Linked DNA regions of Homo sapiens. The gene in region 3 interacts genetically with the main gene of each other region. Each region holds a gene or a part of one and is shown on either strand. Other genes may lie near its edges.

Region 1 (4,385 bases), on a different chromosome or scaffold from region 3:
CCCTGTTTGTGGTTTGGATTCCCCCTCTCTCTCCACTTTCCTACTTCAAGCTGCCACCTCCTTCATCTAGGCCACTGTAACACCTTCAGACATGGCTTCCCAACTCATCTCCTGCATACCTACCTTCCACAACATAGCTAGGGTGGCCTTCTAAATATATAAGTTAGATCATGCCACTCCTGTTTGAATAGGTTACTTTTTTTTTCTTTTGAGACAGAGTTTCACTCTTGTCACTCAGGATGGAGTGCAATGGTGCAATCTCAGCTCACTGCAAACTCTGCCTCTCAGGTTCAAGTGATTCTCTCACCTCACCCTACCCAGTAGCTGGGATTATAGGTGCCCACCACCACGCCCAGCTAATTTTTGTATTTTTGGTAGAGATGGGGTTTTGCCATGTTAGCCAGGCTGGTCTCAAACTCCCGACCTCAGGTGATCCGCCTGCCTCGGCCTCCCAAAGTGCTGGGATTACAGGCATGAGCCACTGCGCCGGGCCTGAATAGCTAACTATTACAAAGAGAATCAAAGGCAGCCCCTGCCTATCTCTCTAGTTTCATCCATATCACTCTACCCATCATTTGTATATTTTAGCCACACTGATCTTATGTCTACTCTTAGAACAAGTCAGGTTCCTTCCTGCCTCAAGGCCTTTGCACTTGCTGTTCTTTCCCCAGTTGTTTGTATGACTGCCTCCTTCTCATCATTCAGGTCTCACCCGAGGTGCCACCTCCTCAGAGAAGTTGTTGCTGATCTCCCTGGCTGAAGGAGCTGCCCTCCCCATGCTATCTCATTACTGTTTTACATTCTTCATGGTACTTATTGCTGTCTGAAACAGCTTTATTTATTTAATATATTTTTAATGTTTGTCTGTCTGTACTAGAATGTGAATTCTATAAGAGTAGGGATATACTTTGCCTGTCTTGCTCACTAAATATATCCTAGCAACTAGAACAGTGCCTGGTATATAATGACTAATACATGAATGAATGAATAAACAAATGCATGAATGAACGGGAATATCAGCCAGAGTGTCCATGTGAACACTGCAGCAGCATTTTCCTTGAGACAAAAGAGTATTTATTGCAGGAGATGTCCCTAATGGATTCTCTCTCACCATCCTCATTCTACTTTGGGTGTACAAGAAGACATTTCAGCAAGACGCAGTTATTACTGTGTTTGGCCAATTTACAACCACCGACACTTTAGCGTACTTTTCACAAAGTACCATCTGTGTTTCAAATGAAGCCAGGGTACGGTGAATGCACTTCGGGATTCTACACCCACCTTTTGACCCGCTTCTTCATTGAGAGCTTTGAAAATTACTGGGCATTTGTTAGGACTGTACAGCACAATTAATAAGTCAATAAGGAAGATATTATTTACCAGCTATTGCTTTCTCAGACTGTGCCAATTGCTACAGGCAGGTTAAAGGTCATACCATTTACCTTGACTTTGAATTACTACTGGGGATTAAATCTTCATACATATAAAATAATTAAGAGACAAAAATGATATAAGATAATGCACAAAACTGTATGCCATGGATGATGAATGCAAAAGGTGTTGAACAAATAATGTAGGCCAGAGAAGAGAGCTGCTGCCTATTTTGAATGTACACTCCAAATGTTTTCTGTTTTACAGTGGTGTACTTGATAGGCAAGTATTTCCAAAGTTTAATAATAAGATGTTACATTTTTGGCATGTCCTGTCATTTTGCAAAGAGCACTTATAGACATTCTCTCATTTAATAAAGCCAATAATTGTAGCCTACTTTCACTGATTACTTATTATATACTAGGCACTGTGCTAGGTGCTTTTTCATGGATTAGCTCAGACAATGTTCACAATATTCCTTTGAGGCAAGTATTATTATGACCCCCATTTTACAGATGAAGCAACTGAGGTATAGAAAAGTTGGGTAACTTGCTTAAGACCCCACGTGGTGGAGTCAGAGGTGAAGCTCTGGACACGTGATCCTAAAGTCCCCGCTTCAACCACCAGACATACCGCCTCTTCCTATGGGTATGTCTAAGTCCCTTGTTATGGATAAGAAAACAACACATTTAAAATATTATGGTTCTTGTATCATTCCATGGTGACGTCACTACTGCAGTCTCAAGAGATATATGGCCACAGAAGTTACTTTTCTTTCTTCTTTCTCTAATTGCAGCCTCTTACTCTGTTCAGGATGTTCGAGAGAGCAGACCACAGTGGTTCCAGGTTGCCCTGGAGCTCTCAAATGGAAGGTCCTCCTGGTACTGAATGTGTCGAGTCTAGTGACTCTGGTCACATTTTCCTTTCCAAAACGTCAGTTTCCTTCAATCCAATTATGTCTCCTGAAAACCCTCAGTGGGAAAAATTTCTAACCTCACTGAAAACTCATTTCTGTCAGCTTCTTTAATGCTGCTATTTATCAGTGAAAGGCATAGCTAATCTCTTATCCCAAGTTGAGATATTCATTTCCACACTGGCCTGAAAACTCTGTGGTATATGCTTTACTGCTAACACAATCTGGAAATTTGGGAAGTGTGTTGAGAGACACACTGTTCAGGCATCAGAGATCTTGAAAAAACAATCAGAACTTTCTTGTGGAGAAAGGGTAAAACTATGTAAAACTCCACTAGTCAAAAATTTGAGAATTGTAAACACAATAATAATTTTTTGTTTGTTTTTCTTCTTTACTATGATTTAATTATGTTTAGGAGCCAAAATTTATTTCCTCTTGGAAATCCAAGTCTGATTTTAATGTGCAATATAACGGAAACACCTGCTTGATAAGAAAGACAGTGAACAACTTTCAGTAAACGTAGACGATGGAGTCAGAAGTGGAAGCTAGAATTACTTAAACTTCCTATCAGTTTCCTATCCCTGCAACACAAACGACATCAGGTTTTCCACAATAAAGGCAAAAAATTTGTGCTTAGTCCATATATTTTAGTGTATAAATTAAACTCAAATTGCCTTGGCAGGTTAAAAAATTTAATATTCCATGAGTTGAAAACACTTGAATTATTTATGAATTGTATATAGGGCCAATTAAAGAAAAATAAAAGAGATTACTAAAGATGCTAACATTTTAAAAGGGTCTGGTATGCATTTCCGATTCGCTGATACCAGAATTTAGCAAGCAAAACCCCATGCTGAGAGAGCACTACACAGTGTACATTCTTATGGCTACTGTGCTCCAAATCCAATGATGACTGCCGATTAATTTAAAGAAACTTAAACAGCTTCAGAAATCTCTCCTCTCTGCCAGAGTGCAGGAAGGGCCCACGGGGCCTCCTGATAGGAATGGTGTGCATCCTTGTGAACGGCACCTTCCTACAGCTGTTTGCATTGCTATTCCAATACTGTGATGCTGATTTTCTTTTCATAACCTGCCTATGCTGCATCATTTCTCTACTCCAATGTGTAAAATTAAAATCTGATAAGGGTAATGTTGTACTAGAGATTTTCATTAGCTTCAGGGCTGTCTAAGCTCCATTTAATTAAAAAGGTTGCATCCAGCTGACTGATTTAGTATGAAAATTATCTGGTCCCTCTTTCCCCCCGCCCCAGACTGTGGAGAAGTGTAGTGCATTTTAAAAGGTGGGAGACACAATACAAATGACCCCCTCATAAGCAAAATTTCAATTTCAGAGAAAACTGCACTGTGTCTAAATATACAGAAATGCATTATCCTCCTTCAGGCCACCCTGACAATACTAGTGAGGCCTCTAATTTCAAGGAGTACAAAGGAATGGTGTTTGCTTTAAGGAATAGGGCAGGAGAGGGAGTCGGAACAAATATCCTACTGGAAAACTTGACTTCATTTGATTTGGGGCTCAAAGACCCCTTTCTCATACCAGGTTTTGCCTAAAGGTGCCTAGGTAGATGGTATAAACACCCAGCAAATGTATCTGTGAATTTCAAGGGAGTCAAAATACAGATACCTTCAGCTGACACTTTCTATTGAATAAATGGAGTTAAATATTCTGATTCTCCCAGACAAGATGTTTGCTCAGACAGGTTGTTCTCTATCCTAAGAAAAAAACTCCACTGGCAAAAGACATAATATATTGTAAACCAAGGCTTCATATAACTGGTTCCCTCTGATTCCTGCCAAATATTTGAAGGTTCTGCTATTAAAATCCACTTTACTTATTTATTTTTAAGTGAGAGCTTTACTATTTGCCTTCATTGGCCTTCATCTAGGCTGGAAATTCAAAATGTATACCAGGAAGTCAAATTATTTTCCTTGTCTGCACATTCAATTTGCACCAAAGACTTTTTTAAGAAAAAAATATCAAATAGCACTAGCCTGAAAATTTTTTCCTCGATGTTAGGGTTTCAAGCAAATTATGTGTGGCTTAGAAAAAAGACTTTGGAAGATGAATTAGAGTAAACAA
Region 2 (4,385 bases), on a different chromosome or scaffold from region 3:
TAACACAGGCTCTAGCCAAATATAGACCCTACTTCTAGAATACTGAAATTAAGAGATTTATGTAGATTATAGCTATAATGACCTTCATAATATTTTAGGAATCCTAGTATAATGACCACTCCCTTCATCTCAAGCCATTCCAAATAAAATTTAATCTCTTTTGAAAAACTGTTGATTTCATTCTGTTCATTGTTGTCTCATTTCATCTGTGAATGTGCTGTAGCCTGGGCAGCAATTATGCCCATCAGTGGGCTGCCCAAATCCTAGTGCTAATTTTTTAGCACTAGAAAATTTCTGGCCGGGCATGGTGGCTCATGCCTGTAATCCCAGCACTTTGGGAGGCTGAGGCGGGTGGATCACCTGAGGTCAGGAGTTTGAGACCAGCCTGGCCAACATGGTGAAACGCTGTCTCTACTAAAAATACAAAAATTAGCCGGGCATGGTGGCACATGTCTGTAATCCCAGCTACTCAGGAGGCTGAGGCAGAAGAATCGCTTGAACCCAGGAGGCGGAGGCTGCAGTGAGCCGAGATCGCACCACTGCACTCCAGCCTGGGAAACAAGAGCAAAACTCCGTCTTAAAAAAAAAAGAAAAGAAAATTTCCATGCCTCTGTAAAGAGAAATAGGAAGGGTCTGCAGAACTAAGTTAGAAGAAGGTGTGGAGTTAAATCCCACGTGGGCCACAGAACATGCAAATCTTAAGGTAAAGCATCCACACGGATGGGCTTTTTTAGGTTAATTGTGAGAGGGAAGAGGGCCCAGGTAGGCCAGAGTGCAAGAGCCTGCACTGAGATTTCGTATCTCCCAGAAGACCTGCAAAAGTGCTACTGGCCAGAGTCTATGGATGCCCCAAAAGAAGAAACAACAGAGGGGCCCCCGGTGCAGCACCTGGACAAGCTACTTCCAAGAGCCAAACTGAAGGCTGGGGCTAGGACTTTATGATAAAGATCTGCATTTGTTCAAATGTAAAGCATTCTGCACTAACAAAATGATAGCAAATATTCATATAGTGCTCATATTTGAAGCACTTTTCAAGCAGTATCTCATTTAACACCCATGCTCCTGTGAGATCATTGTTATCATCATTCCCGTTTGACTGAGGAGGAAACTGAGGCACCCAGAGATCTGGGCAGAGCTGAGATTTGCTCCAGGGGATGTGGCTCTGGAGTCTGTTCTTAACCACTATGTGATATAGTTTCTCAAATGAGGTTGCTCCAAATCCCAGACCCAGCAAAGGCTGGGGGCCCCACACAGCAAAACGGAAGCCTGCCACACACCGGAAACATTCTTTTTTGTGTCTCTGCATACTTATGTCACTGCTTTGTGATGCTGTCTTTTAACAAGTTCTCTCTTCTTTAGTTGTTCCAGAAAGCATCACAGGTAATAATGTGATTTCATGTTCTATCATCTTCTCTTTATTGGATTCTTTTATTTGAACAGTTGATATGAATTTTGCAATCAACAGGCCATGGGTTTGAAAGAACATACTGTGGAATCTGACAGGCTGGGTTCAAATCCCAGCATAGTTACTTACCAGTTGTTAGGGCTCAAACAAGTGAATCAACATCTATGACCCTTAGCTTGCTTCCTCCTTTATAAAATGAAAATAATAACCATAATTCCTGGAAGGGCTGCATGAGGATTAAATGAGAGACCACATCGGCCAGTGCTCAAGATGTTCAGAGCACATGCACTGCCTAGGAGTCTTTTCAAGCACAGGGGCTGATTCAGGGGCACAGAGTGGCGGGATTTTTGCATTTCCCACAAGCTCCCAAGTAATGCAGATGTTGCTGGTTGGTGGACCACTTTAAAGCTTTCAGTATGTCTTCATTATTATTAATGTTAATGATTATATTCTACTCCATAGCTACAGAACCAGTTAGAGATTGTGACAGTTTATATCAGAACTCTCCAATGAATGAATCAAGTTTGTCTCTGCAGTCTGCAGTACAACAAGATGGGAGCCTCGTGCCTTATGCCCCTACAGTGCTCCCCCATTTACTCCTGCCTGGATCTGGTCTAACAGTCCACTCACTGACCCATAACAGCCAGGAATGTGGAAATAATTCATGTTTCTAAGTTAAGTTCCTTAAAACTGCATGTCAAAAACCATAGCAACTTGAAATATCAGAATTAATCCACAATCACAAGAAACTTATCCTCAACACTTATTTCTCAGATTATGATAAAAATGAAGGATTTTTTCAAATATCAAGTTTACATATACATATATATATATGAAGATATTATCTATGAACATTTTGTCTAAATGGAGGGTGAGGCAGAGAAATGTACAAATATGAAATTCAATTTAAAAAATATAGATAGTGTACTTAACTAGTTTGGTCCCTGGCACACAGTGAAAGGGCCCAAATGGGAACTGGTGCTATAAATAATTGCTTCCTTTTTCTTGTGTTAAGACAGAAAGGATGGGGATTGAATGGGGAGATACTAGGCTGAACTGGGTTAAACCGGACTAGGGACATGAAGTAAAACTAGAAATTCATGATCACAAGCTCCCAAACTAGTCCTGACATTTTAATTTGGCAACTGAATTACTCACAAAGGAAGCAACATCTGTCTCTGTCATCCCTTAGCATTCCTTTCTGAACTCCTCCTCTTGTTGCCTAGAGGCCTAGCACCTAATGCTGTCTTAAATCTGCCAGCCTCTTCGGGCAGCACGTTTTACCCCCCTTCCTCCCAGAATGGATCAAAACCTTCCAGGGTTCACTGCCAGTCGGGGGAAAGCAGTACACTTGACCCTTGAATGACAGGGGTTTGAACTGTGCGGGTTCACTTATATGCGAGTGTTTTTCAATGAAAGTCACACCAAGTGTGCCTGCCTGTCCTGCTTCCCTTTCTACCTCCTCTATCTCCTCTGCCTCTGCCACCCCTCAAACAGCAAGATCAACCCCTCCTCTTCCCCCACCTCCTACTCAACCTGAAGATGACAAGGAGACCTTTATGATCATCCACTTCCACTCAATGAATAGTAAATATATTTTCTCTGTCTTATGATTTTCTTGATAACATTTTCTTTTCTCTAGCTTACTTTATTGTAAGAATACAGATGATACATAAAGCACACAAAATATGTGTTAATCAACTGTTTATGGTATTGGCAAAGCTTCTGGTCAACAGCAAGCTATTAGTTAAGTTTTGGTGAAGTTAAAAATTTGTTAAAAGCAGTGTTTTGACTGCAGGGGGTTGGTGTCCCTAAGCCCTGAGTTGTTCAATGGTCAACTGTAATTCAGGGTGTGAATGAGTCCAGATACTCCCAGGAAAGGTCTGGATTATGAAGAGCATTTTCAAGTGGCATTGGCTCTATCTTCCGGTGGAGATGGTGCTGCAGGGTTGGAGGTGCAGAATGGGCTGGTGGAGTGGGGGTCACTAAGAAGCTTGAGTCCATCCTCAGCCCTCTCCTTCCAGGTCTCTCCAATTCCCTCAGCTATCCAGGGTTACATAAATGAACTCATCACTAGAGGCCTGCACCATCTTCCTGCTGCCCTGCAGCCCACAGGATTAAACACAACCAAAGTCCCTGCCTGGAGAAAGAGGAGCTGAATCACACACCTCAGGATGGAGAGGGTCTTCAGAGAAAGGAAATTCTCATTGGGGGTGAAAATGTTAAAAGCTAGCCCAAAGCACACTACGTACATGCAGGAGTTGCCTAAAAGCACATATGATTAAAAACTCCAAAGAAAACGCAGACACTTTTCACTTACGATACTGTAAGATAGCTCCCACCTCTGTTATTTTTGAAAATTCTGTTACCCAAAGCTTGGGCAAAATTTATGATATCCACCCCTGCCAAATAAAAAAACCCTGTCTGTCATGAATGAAAGTTTGCTGTCATATGTAAGTGGATCTTTTTTAGGGAGAAAGAAAAGGCTCTGTCAGGTTGCTATATGCTATAAGCTAAAAGGTAAGAAGTCTGGCTGTAAAGAAAGTGTTGAAAGGAATTTGGAGTATCACTGAAAACCCAGAACATGCCTCATTAGGTTCAGCTTCCTGTAGTGCTAGTGTGGGCATTGCAGGGTCTGTCATCCAGTTTATGGTCATGGGCATTAGATAACACAACCTCATATTCAGGTTTAATCTCAACCCATACCCTTTGCTGTAGTGTATCTCGAACAGCTGAAAAGATCATTTATTTCTGGGCCATCTAGAAGCTCATGCTGTCATAAAGACTCAAAACCATTCAGCACCCATCTTCTCTTGAAAGAGAAGAGTAGGCAAAGGAACAGTTTTCATAAATCTGAAAATCCAAAAGAACTTTATAGGGCCCAAAACTTTAAGAGTTCACCTGTTTCCCCTCTGATGATCATGTAGCAAGCAGAGAATTATTTCAGCTTTAAGGGCATAAATCCACTAATTGCCCAGCC
Region 3 (5,271 bases):
ACAAACATTTCAGAATCTTACCCCTATCGCAGCCATACTTCCTACTTACTAAGGAATACAATTCCTACTTATTGATCACTATGCTTAGACAGCCATCCAACAGCTAGAGATGCTTCATTTTCAATTCTGCAACAAAGGTAAATTCTACTTTGACAATTTACCTTTATCAGAGGCCAGTGGGATGGTGGGTGTAAGAGCTTAACCACAACTGGTAGTCCATAGTGAAGGCGAACTGCATTCTGGGCCATCTCTGCTTCTTGGTGTCGGCTGGTCAGATGACGAAGAGCACAGATGGCAGGCTCAGTGATGTCTTCCCTGTCACCAGCCCGAAGGACAGTACGCACAAGAGCCTCTATACCACCCACTTGGCAGACCATCATCTTGTTCTTATAATTATTGCAAGTGAGGTTAGAAAGAATTCCAGCTGCACAGGTGACCACATTTATATCATCTGAACCCAGAAGCTGAACAAGAGTCCCAAGGAGACCTTCCATCCCTTCCTATGGAGATAAAAACAGATGGTCAGTACAAGCACATACTCATCTTGACTCTATTCCCATGGCACCAGTTTACTCAGAATTTACCTGTTTAGTTGCAGCATCTGAAAGATTCCTGAGAGTCCAAAGACAGTTCTGAACAAGACGTTGACTTGGATCTGTCAGGTGAAGTCCTAAAGCTTGCATTCCACCTAGAAAATTAAAAAGGATATAAGGCCCTAGTCATTAGCTAGAAGTGCCTATCAATCCTAAATATCTGTTCTAGCCTTAGGAGGTGTCCTTCTGTATTTCCAGAGTTTACTTCCTTTCACCTAAGTATTTGATTTCCTCTCATTTTCTAGAATGTTGCTCAGTTTCCTTCACTTTGCCAGTTCACCTCACTAGTGACAAACTCTCAAATAGCTACTGTTCCTTTCCTAAGCCGAAAAAGCCTTTGTTATCTCCACTGTCCCCCTTAGGTAATATTCTTATTACTCATTTCTTTTCATCCATTCAATCATTTCAAAAATATTTATTCAGTACCAGGTCCTGTTCTGAGCTGCAGATAGACCAGTGAACAAAAATATTCAGAAGTTCCTACCCTCAGAATTTATGATCTAGTTGGAAGAGGCAGAAAAATATACAATAAACTAAAACCATACAGTATGTCAGATGATATTAAAGGGCTATGGAGAAAAATAATGGAGTGGGGCTGCGATTTTAAATAGATAATTAGGTCACCTCACTGTGAAGGTGACATCTGACTAAAGACCTAAAGAAGCTAGGTAAATTCCTGGGGTAAGAACAATCCAGAAAGACGGCATGAAAACACTTACTGTCAGGGACTTTATACAATTCACTGACTACAAAACATGTGTTCCAAGGTTTACAATCTTCCATCCTTTAGGACCCTTAAATGGGGGACATTTACTCTGGCAAAGGAGTATAAATGGAAGCCCAATGCCCACATAGTAGATTAACTTCGCTCATCCATCTTCAACTTAAATCACTTCTGAATGCAGTAAGAGATACTTTTCCTTGTCTCCTTCATCTTTCGGGTCTGTTTTATTTCCTCAGATGAGGTCTATCTGCTGTAATTCTTATGGTACCCTGCACTTCTCCTTCATAGTGTAAGTTACTCCACTTTCCCTACAAGACAAAGATCACCTCTGTTGGGTTCCTTTTTCATAGTAGCTCCAGCTACTAATAGAATGATCTGCGTAAGACTGATGATCAGGATGCTCAGTATTTGTGAAATGACTACCTTCTTTCCCCTCTTTAAGACTTCATTCCCTCCCTTTACATAACTATTAACTCTAAGAGAATGGATTTTAACCCCAGATGTCCATCAGAATGGCCTACAGAGACTTTAAAACACACACATTCTGATTCAGCAGTTCTAGGGTAAAAAAAAAAGTCCCATACAGATGACTCTGTGGCACCTCTACCTCCCCTTCCCTGCTGCCCTTACCCCTATATACTAAGAGGGAAACTTCCAAATCTCTAGCCTGCCTCTCTTGCATTCTAGTATCATACATTTCCAGCTACCTACTGACCTTTTAAGTCACTTTAAGTCAGCTTCTTAAATTATTATGTTCAAAAATTAAGGATGCCTTCTGAGGGTTCCATTTATCTTCATGGTACCAATGTTGTCCCCTCCACAAACCGTTTTTGGTTGCTCCCTTAGCTCCTATATTATTACATTCTATGATTCTTTCAGGCATCTCAGACATCTGCCCTTTGCTATTGAGTTCTAAAAGCAAACTATTTCATTCCTAAAAGCCTGTAACATCTCAGTAGTCTGGTCTTCTAGCTTTTGGTCATTCAAACTGTTAATCTATACAATGCTATTATTAATATTTTAAACACACCACTGTGATGCTTTGCTATTGATAAACAACCATCGAAAGTGTCTCAGCATCCTTTTAAGATAATAGAAATACTTTAGTATAACCCTGAGGAACCGTTTAGAATTTGGATCCCACCTAGCCTTCCAAACTGACCAAAGTATTCTGTATCTATGGCTCCAAAGCTGGAATAAAGCATGAATAAACTCCATGAGTAGTAACTATCTTATAGGAACCTAGAAAGTCCTGCATGTTATGGCTCTGCTTACCTAACCTCAACCTCATACCAGGCCATCCACCTCATTACTAAGTTCTGTTTATGCAGACCTTCTCTTCAGCACCTGGATCTCCACAATCTCTTTCCCTTTTTTTTTTTTTTGAGATAGAGTCTCACTCTGTCGCCCAGGCTGAAGTGCAGTGGCGCTATCTCAGCTCACTGCAAGCTCCGCCTCCCGGGTTCACACCATTCTCCTGCCTCAGCCTCCCAAGTAGCTGGGACTACAGGCGCCTGCCACCACGCCCGGCTAACTTTTTGTATTTTTAGTAGAGATGGGGTTTCACTGTGTTAGCCAGGCTGGTCTCGATCTCCTGACCTCATGATCCGCCCACCTCAGCCTCCCAAAGTGCTGGAATTACAGGCGTGAGCCACCGTGCCTGACCAATCTCTTTCCTTCTAAGGCAAGCTTGTCCAACCTGCAGCCCATGGGCCACATGGCCTAGGACAGCTCTGAATGTAGCCCAACACAAATTCGTAAACTTTCTTAAACATTATGAGATTCTTTTGCAATTTTTTTTTGTTTTAGCTCATCAGCTATCATTAGTGTATTTGGTGTGTAGCCCAAGACAATTATTCTTCTTCCAATGTGGCCCAGGGAAGCCAAAAGACTGGATATCCCTGGTTCTAAGACATAGCACATGGTGTTCCTTTTCTCTACCTGGAAAACGTTTAACCCTCACTTCTCATATAGACAAGAGACGGTTCCCTCTCATCCTGCAGTCCCACTTAACATCCCCTTTTCAAGGAGACCTTTTCCCTCTCATCTAGACAATTCCCCTCCCCATTAATTCTCATCACTATTTGCTGTCATTTCTCCCATAACACTCATTCTAATTTAGGATCACATATTTTTAAGTATTTTTGTCACCTTCACAAGACTAAGAATTAAGCACGGGGACCCTATCTGTTGTGTTACCCAATGTATACTATGTGCCTATTCCATTTCTTAAAATACATTAGATGCTATTTTCAGAATAAACAAATGAACATAAGAATAACCTGGAAGAACTTAAAGATTCCTAAGCTTCCAGTCCCATACATGTCCAGCTATCTACAGACCTCCCTGTCACTTCAAATAAAACACTATGAGATCTTGATATAAAAATTAACACTCCAGGGATTCTGATTAAATAAATCTCAAAATCTGTATTTTTAGCCTACATTACAGGTTACTGCTGGAACAGCTGACAGAATTTACATCCCATCCCCTCATTCTATATGAACTCAGCCACATTTGTCTATCCCCAAGACTATGGTTCCTCTGCCAGTAGTTACCTGGAGCAATCATAATGTCTTTCTCTCTCATAAATTCCCAAGTAAAATTACTCTCAATAAGTGAGAAAAGTAAGTGTTGCCAGCCCTATACTTTATTCCCAACATTTTCTTCCATTAAATGCCTTTATATTTTTCCTTCTTTCAATACTGATTTGAAGCTTGCTTTGAAATTCTGAGTAAATGTTGTTAGGTGGGTTACTGAAAGGAGAAAAAATGCTTGGTAGCTAAAAAGTAACTGTTTTCATGACACACACACACACACACACACACACACACAGAACCCAAGAGGCCCTAGTACAAACCATCTATTCTTTTCCCCAATTGCCAACATACACAATATACAAAGTACCACATATAAGTTGCCTTCTTAAAAATACTCAGAATAGAAAAAAATTGTTTCTCATACTTAGACGACATCTATTCACTGAGAATACAGAATATCAGGGCAAAACACTGCTCATAATCAGGCAAGAGAAAGAAAATGCATCCAAATAGGAAGTCTGTTTGCAAACAATATGATTCTATACCTAGAAAACCCCATAATCTCTGCCCAAAAGCTCCTTGATCCAATAAACTTCAGCAAAGTTTCAGGATATAAAAATCAATGTACAAAAGTCAGAAGCATTTCTAGACACCAACAACATCCAAGCTGCAAGCCAAATCAAGAATGCAATCCCATTTACCAAAGCCACAAAAAGAATAAAATACCTAGGAATACAACTAACCAGGGAGGTGAAAGATCTCTACAATGAGAATTACAAAAAACACTGCTCAAAGAAATCAGAGATGACACCAACAAATGAAAAAACATTCTATTTCATGGCAGGAAGAATCAATATTGTTAAAATGGCCATACAGCCCAAAGCAATTCACAGATTCAATGCTATTCCTACCAAACTACCAATGGCATTCTTCACATAATTAAAAAAAAACTATTTAAAAATTCATATGAACCCAAAAAAGAGCCTGAATAGCCAAGGCAATCCTAAGCAAAAAGAACAAAACTGGAGGAATCACTTTACCCAACTTCAAGCTATACTGTTAATACAAGGTTACAATCACAGCATGGTACTGGTATACAAACAGACACAGAGACCAATGGAACAGAAAAGAAAGCCCAGAAGTTAGGCCGCACACCTAACAAGTAAACAAAAACAAGCAATGGGGAAAGGACTCCCTATTCAATAAATGGTGCTGGGATAACTGGCTAGCCACATCCAAGATTGAAACTGCACCCCATCCTTACATGATGTACAAAAATCAACTCAGAATGGATTAAAGACTTAAATATAAAACTTAAAACTGTAAAAACTCTGCAAGATAACCTAGGAAATACCATTCTGGACATAAGACCTGGCAAAGATTTCATGACGAAGATGCCAAGAGAAGTTGCAAC

The links. A genetic interaction does not mean that the proteins touch.
Region 1: of CTNNB1 (region 3) and GRIP1, changing one enhances a phenotype caused by changing the other (phenotypic enhancement), as found in Homo sapiens cells (one study listed by BioGRID).
Region 2: of CTNNB1 (region 3) and KCTD1, changing one suppresses a phenotype caused by changing the other (phenotypic suppression), as found in Homo sapiens cells (one study listed by BioGRID).

What each region holds. Positions count from the first base shown.
Region 1 is NC_000012.12:66,458,192-66,462,576, forward strand, and holds part of GRIP1 (glutamate receptor-interacting protein 1), read right to left. Parts: intron 1-4,385. UniProt on the Homo sapiens protein: May play a role as a localized scaffold for the assembly of a multiprotein signaling complex and as mediator of the trafficking of its binding partners at specific subcellular location in neurons.
Region 2 is NC_000018.10:26,537,669-26,542,053, forward strand, and holds part of KCTD1 (BTB/POZ domain-containing protein KCTD1), read right to left. Parts: intron 1-4,385. UniProt on the Homo sapiens protein: May repress the transcriptional activity of AP-2 family members, including TFAP2A, TFAP2B and TFAP2C to various extent.
Region 3 is NC_000003.12:41,228,758-41,234,028, reverse strand, and holds part of CTNNB1 (catenin beta-1), read right to left. Parts: intron 689-5,271; coding exon 585-688; intron 501-584; coding exon 162-500; intron 1-161. UniProt on the Homo sapiens protein: Key downstream component of the canonical Wnt signaling pathway.